2 linked regions of the Homo sapiens genome follow. The protein of the gene in region 1 interacts with the protein of each later gene in a pairwise test. Each region holds a gene or a part of one and is shown on either strand. Other genes may lie near its edges.

Region 1 (3,500 bases):
GAGTGATAATGTTTGGATGCTGTCCATAACGAAGAAGAATTTCAATTTCTTCTGTTGGGTCTCTCTTGCTTTTATCAATAATCTAAAAGGCAAATGTTTATCACAAAACCTCATCAACTATACAGTTATAAACATTAATTGTTTATAGCTACAGACCTTGGGTATTACCTCATGTAAATAGTGTATAAATAAGCCATTTATCAGTCAGTTTTATTCAACTACCTGGCCAGATTGTTTAATCAGAAAGCCAGTCTTGATATAGATGGCAAGGCTGTAAATTCTAACTCATGAGTCGCATTCCCACCATGCCTCTCCAATCTAAGTTTGTAAGTTTGTAGTAAGTTTAGGACTTAACCAAAAACTCAAAAAGCCTCGAGAAAAGGTACCAAGAACACAGTTAACATATCTTTTCTTCTATCCTTGAGGCCTTAAACATTTGGGAACTCAGTCAACTTCTAACCCCCCATCAATACAGATAATTAAGAGCTAGATATAACACCACCACTAGCATCTGCTTATTGAATTAAGTTTACTTCCTTTAATAAAATGCTTCAATTGAATATCCTGTTAGCTGTAAGCTACTTATAAAAGCTAATTATCTGCTAAGTAGAACAATCTTGTTTTTGAAGTTAGGCAGAAAGCTACATAGAAAATCATACCTAGCATTTTATTTGGTTAGAATTTGGTTTAATTATTATAATAAAGCCCTTTAAAATAGTAATGTAGCTTTCTAACCCTTTTATATTGGCTGCTCCTTAAAAATATTTTTCTTAATGTTTTAATCTGCTCAACTAATATTATATAAAAAAGACAAATTTTGCTTTCTATTCATTCAAAGGGTAGTCTGAAACAAATTAGGTGGCCTTTGTATGTTCAATTTTAAACAGCTTAGTAATTAAGTATGCACTAAATACCCAGACACTCCAGCAACCTAGGAAAGAGGTTACAACTCTCAAGCATGGGTCCAGTCTTCTATCTGAAATGGATTTATAGTTGACCCTTGAACAACACAGGTTTGAACTATGAGGGACCAATTACACGTGGATTTTCTTCTGCTTCTGCCACCCCTGAGACACCAAGACCAACTCCTTCTCTTCTTCCTCCCTCCTCAGCCTACTTAAGGTGAAAATGATGAGGAAAAAGACCTTTATTATGATCCACTTCCATTTAATGAACAGTAAATGTATTTTCTCTTCCTTATATATATTTTTTCTTTTTTTGAGACAGGGTCTTGCTCTGTTGCCCAGGGTGGAGTGTAGTGGCGCAATCACGGCTCACTGCAACCTCAAACCCCTGGGCCCAAGTGATCCTCCCACCTCTACCTCCTGAGTAGCTGGGACCACAGGCACATACCACTACACTCAGAAAATTTTAAAAATTATTTGTAGAGATGAGGTCTGGCTATGTTGCCAAGGCTAGAGTACAGTGGCACATAGCTCACTGCAGCCTGAACCTCCTGAGCTCAAGCAATCCTTCCGTCTCAGCCTCCTGAGTAGCTGGGACTACAGGCACATGTAGCCACGCCTGGCTAATTTTTAAACAATTTTTCTGTAGAGATAGGGTCTTGCTCTGTTGCCCAGGCTTGTCTCAAACTCCTGGCCTCAAGCAATCCTCCCACCTCGGCCTCCCAAAGTGCTAGGATTACAAACGTGAGACACTATGTCTGGCATGATTTTCTTAATAACACTTTCTTTTCTCTAGCTTACTTTATTGTAAGAATACAGTATATAATACATATAACATACAAAATAATCGACTATATATGCTATCAGTGAGGCTTCTGGTCAACAGTAGGCTATGAGCAGTTAAGTTTTGGAGAGTCAAGTTATACGTGGATTTTCAACTGCTTGGGGATCAGCACTCCCAAGTCCTGTGTTATTCAAGGGTAGACTGTACTTGTATAACAGTTCTGTATTTGGAGAACAGGGAAGGTAAACATACAGGTGCCCACTGTAATCAACTGCAAATGATAGTGTGGAATTAGGCAAATGGGTGATTAAGAGGAGAGGTATATGGAATAGACATGCTAATTTAAGAGATGACCTGGGACTAGTCTTTTGAAAACCAGAACACACTGGGAGGGGTCGTTTTTGGCATGGATCTGCTAATCTGAGCCCAGTTTGCATTAGATCTATACTTGTGCTTGTGGACCTCAAATATGTGGTAATTTCAGTAGAATCCAGTTGTGTTGGGATTGGTTTTATGAATCATTTAAGTTACAAAAATCCACAAATAGCTTGGAGATATTTTTGAGGTTTTAGGCATAGTCCTCAAGGTTTCTGTAATTCAAAGGGGCCTCAGGACATTTCTGCTTTTTATGATGTATTTATGGAGGCAAGACACATCCTTAAACTGCCTACCAAATACATTATTAGTCTTTTCTCCTTTCATGTAAGCAATTTGAAAACTTCTATGTATCTTAGATTTCAGTAAGAGCAATGAATAGGAAAATAGAAAATTAAATGTATTTCTTTTAAGAATTTCCTTCTTTAAAATTAGCTTTATTGTCCTTCCAATGAAGCAAATTAAATGTATTTTTATGGTTCATCCTTCTATCTGACAGAAAGCCCTATAGACACTGACGACTTTAAAGCAGTTACATCTAAGTTTAGAAGAGTGATAACAACTAATGTCACTATCTCTCTAAACATGAGCTATGTATATTTATAAACCAGTCCTAAGGTTCAAACAAGTTGAAAGCTTTAGACATTGTTTGAATTGCTTGAGATTGGAGAGCAGAGGTTACTATTCCAAGAAGTGAAAAGAGACTTGAACATAGTGCTTGTTCACTTACGACTAAAGGTTTGAAATTCAAACTTTATCGTAGAGCTAGGTTCCTTGGTTTTTGGCTTAGAAAATTCTGTCTTAGGATACTTGATGAAATTAAAACAGCCAATGATAACGAATTTTATGATAGTGGTTTTTATTCATTAGTTCCCAGATCCTTTTAGATGCAAAGAAAGGTATGAACTTTTTGCCAGAGAAGATGTAAACATACAAAATTTTGCACACAATTTTGAGGAATTTGCTGACACCCTGAGCATAAAATGGGGACTTCTCAGAGTAAAAAGATACTTTAAAAATCACTTGAGGTAAAAAAAGAAAAAAAATCACTTGAGGTGTAAACTGCTACTGCTCTGGGAAAACTAGATATATAACCACCTTACCTTTAGCTCACAGGGTTCTAGATTAAGATCTCTGAAGATCACTAGCCAGATATTTAACTTTTTTATAACAAAAGGCACTTTTAACAACAAGGGGAGTGTAATTTTTAACTGGTACTGACATGCATGAACAAGAACTGTATGAATTGCATTTTAAATAAAAAAAATTTACCTTCACTGCAAACTCCATGTTTGTAGCTTTATGTATACATCTCTTGCAAACAGAGTAGGAGCCAACTCCAATATCTTCTTTTACTTCATATCCATCAGTAAACTGAATACTGTTCCTGTGTAACTGCTACAAAAAATTATAAATTGGTGAAGAGTCCCATAATG
Region 2 (3,500 bases), 1.8 Mb from region 1:
TCCGATTCATATTGCATTCTCTTCCATCACTTTATTTGGGGTGAAGCACATCGTCCTGTCAGTATCCACATTTGAAAAATAAAGAGATCCTGGCTAGATTGGGATCTAAGTTCACTTAGTTTTTAGTAAGGGGAACTTGGTGAAAAATCGACTTGTGAGGTCTCCAGAAACACTTAATTGATAATGAGTCAAAAGGCATTACTCTTGGCATGTGAATATTGGATGTGACTCAAGGGTGAGTCAAATGCCTGTGGAGCCTGGATTCATGTTCTTTTCCCCGTTTGTCAGTAATCCTTTCTAATGTTCCAGTTCCATGATGTGATTTTAGTGGAATTAAACTTGAACCACTTAGTTATGATGTTGTTACTGTGTTGGGAACGCAGCAGCCACCAGACCACCAAGAGCAACTGTAGGTTGGGCTTGGTGGTGCTGGTTTAGTGTTGTGGCTGATGAGGTGTAACCCAGGAAATTTTTATTTTTGCTTTTAAAAAAACAACTCATCTGTGGTCATCTTGTAAGTGAAGTATTGGACTATAAGGACTCTTGAGCCCGAAAAACATTTTGTGACTTAGCCTGAGGCTAACAGGAATAAACTTGTCCCATGTTCAGATAGTTTAGGCATATCTGAGTTGGTGGAGGAAATGTGATCTGTTCCTAGCCCTATGTGCTAGGCAGGATGCCTGGGTATCCAGAGAGTGAGTGAGAGGCCCGGCGCGATGCCGCATGCCTGTAATTCCAGCACTCTGGGAGGCGAAGCGCTTGAGCCCAAGAGTTCAAGACCAGCCTGGGCAACATGGGAAAAACCTGTCTCTACAAAAAAAAAAAAAAAAAAAAAAAGAAAAAAAATTAGCCAGGTGTGGTGAGTTTTCTGCACCTGTAGTCCCAGCTAGTTGGGAGGCTGAGGCGGGAGGATCCCCTGAGCCCAGGAAGTGGAGACTGCACTCCAGCCTGGACAGTGGCGTGAAACTCTCTCAAAAACAAAACAAGGGCCAGGCGTAGTGGCTCATGCCTGTAATCCCAGCACTTTGGGAGGCTGAGGTGGGCAGATCACCTGAGGACGGGAGTTTGAGATCAGCCTGGCCAACATGATGAAACCCTATCTCTACTAAAAATACAAAAATCAGCCGGGTGTTGGTGGCCTGTGTCTGTAGTCCCAGCTACTCTGGAGGCTGAGGCAAGAGAATGGCTTGAACGAGGGAGGTGGAGGTTACGCTGAGCCCAGATTGTGCCACTGCACTCCAGCCTGGGCGACAGAGAGACTGTGTGTCAAAAAAGCAAAACCCGCACACAAAAACAGTGGTGAGTGAGCTGCTGTAACCTCTTCTTGCCATGTTGGAGTGGAAGGTCTCTAACAGGCCAGCCAGCTCTGAAAAGGTCTAGCAATCCTATGTCCATTTTTTTCCCCTGGGCTGGGCGTATCTTTTGAAGGCAGACCTCCACCAGGGTCTGTATCCTGGAGACAGCTCTGGTACATGGTAGATATTTGGTACACGCTGATTAAATAGACCAAGTTTATGTTATGGTAAAGGTGGAATGCTGGTTCATGTCCATTAGGGGAAAGTGAGATGCTCATTTACCTTGTAGAATTATGAGGATGGTCCAGAATTCAGAAACGTGGCAGATACTGTTAGGTCTGTCATTTGGACCATTGCTATATGATTTGTGCAGGGACACAAGGAGATTTGTGTCGCTCAAATTCACAAATTCTATAACCTTGTTTAATAATTTAAGAACAGAAGGCTACTTGGGAATTACGGGCTTAGCGGAGAAGGTTTGGGGCAGGGGGTTCTTTTGTACCCTTGACCCTCATCAGGGAAGCCTGTGCACCTCTTCTCAGAGTAAGAATTTTAGATGCGTGAAATAACCCAATCTTCAAAATACAAAACCCCCACCGTGTGGTATGGTAACATGTGCTTTGCTTCCCGTCCCCCCCCCCACCCCCTACAGTCTCGCTCTGTCGCCCAGAGCTGGAGTGCAATGGCACGATCTCAGTGTAACCTCTGCCTCCCAGGTTCAAGCTATTCTCCTGTCTCAGCCTCCAGAGTAGCTGGGATTACAGGCACGCGGCACCACACCCGGCTAATTTTTGTATTTTTGGTAGAGATGGGGTTTCGCCATGTTGGCCAGGCTGGTCTCGAACTCCTGACCTCATGATCCACCCGCATTGGCCTCTCAAAGTGCTGGGATTACAGGTGTGAGCCACCGCGCCCAGCTCATGTGCTTCTTTATTAACACATCAAATAACAAGATGTGGCAGCAAGGCTAGTAAGTTTCATAAGTAGAGCTGAGCAAAATTGATATTTAACAAATTGTTAGGCAAGGAGAAAAACCTGATTTTTTGTGACAATGACCAGGTGTAGTTGACAGTGTGTGATTTTTTGGCCTCCAAGCATAACTGAAGAAAGTGCTAAATTTCTATTAGTGAAAATAAGTCTGTGTGTTTTTTTCCATTCAAGTTCACAGGCCCCCTGAATTGTATCCATTGGCCCCTTGGGCATCCATGGACCCCAGGTTGAGACCCCCAGGCTGGGGAGGGGGAGGACTGAGACAGCCCGTTCCTTTTAGGGGGTGTAGGTTTCCACCCAAGGCCAATGCTGGAGGCACATGTCCCTAGTTATTCTTCAAAAACAAAAGCGGCTCTTTGAACTATTTGAAAACATAAAAGTTGTACTTAGTAATTGCCACAGGGGCTAAGTGCCCTGAGTGCTTTGTGCATTAATTTTAGGTAAATCCTCAAAATAACCCTAGGTAGGTCTTGTTATCCCCATTTTAAAGACAAATAAATAGGCCTAATCTTGAGGTTTTTTACTTTTTGAGTGGCAGAGCTGGAATTCAAAGCCATGTTTGTTTGATTGGAAGGCTGGTTCTGCTTCCACGATTCTGAAGCCTCTTAGTTTAAGGCGGTGATTCTCAATGTGGGTGCTTCCCTCCGTGGGTGACATCTGGCAATTTCTGGAGACAGTTTTGGTTGTCACAACTGGGGAGATGCTACTAGCATCTAGTACGTCCTGCAGCGCACAGGACAACTCCCCTGCGGCATTGACAGCCCAAAATGTCCATAGTGCCCAGGCAGAGAAACCCTGGTTTAAATTCATACTAGACCATTTCAGTAATTTGGATGACAGATCATCAGCAAAATTTCCCTGGTCCTTCTTGGAAGTGTCAGTTATGCCCACAAATTGTTAGGCAGGGAAGGAGGATGGGCCCTGTCTTTCTCTAAGGTTGGCACTGGGCTCTGTTAGGAGCTTGGTCATTGCTTCCTACTGAACTGAGCCTGTGGTTTGAGGTGACCTTCCCTCCCTGATTTCCTGAACCATCGCTCTTTTTAACCAGCTCCCACGCTCCCCTGTATTTGAGCTGCCTTCTGGTGGAAGCATGTCTTCTTTGTGTGTTTTAAATAGCTATAACTGTCTAAATAATAAAACCTAAACAATGTAGTTCAGATTGCATCTAGCTTTCTCAAGAGTAGAGAAAGCTTCCTTCCTCCCGCTCCTTCAGCA

What was found.
Region 2: the proteins of RPS6KA3 (region 1) and SMS interact in a two-hybrid assay, tested with the Homo sapiens proteins (one large-scale study listed by BioGRID and IntAct).

What each region holds. Positions count from the first base shown.
Region 1 is NC_000023.11:20,169,410-20,172,909, forward strand, and holds part of RPS6KA3 (ribosomal protein S6 kinase alpha-3), read right to left. Parts: intron 3,463-3,500; coding exon 3,337-3,462; intron 83-3,336; coding exon 1-82. UniProt on the Homo sapiens protein: Serine/threonine-protein kinase that acts downstream of ERK (MAPK1/ERK2 and MAPK3/ERK1) signaling and mediates mitogenic and stress-induced activation of the transcription factors CREB1, ETV1/ER81 and NR4A1/NUR77, regulates translation through RPS6 and EIF4B phosphorylation, and mediates cellular proliferation, survival, and differentiation by modulating mTOR signaling and repressing pro-apoptotic function of BAD and DAPK1.
Region 2 is NC_000023.11:21,943,709-21,947,208, forward strand, and holds part of SMS (spermine synthase), read left to right. Parts: intron 1-3,500. UniProt on the Homo sapiens protein: Catalyzes the production of spermine from spermidine and decarboxylated S-adenosylmethionine (dcSAM).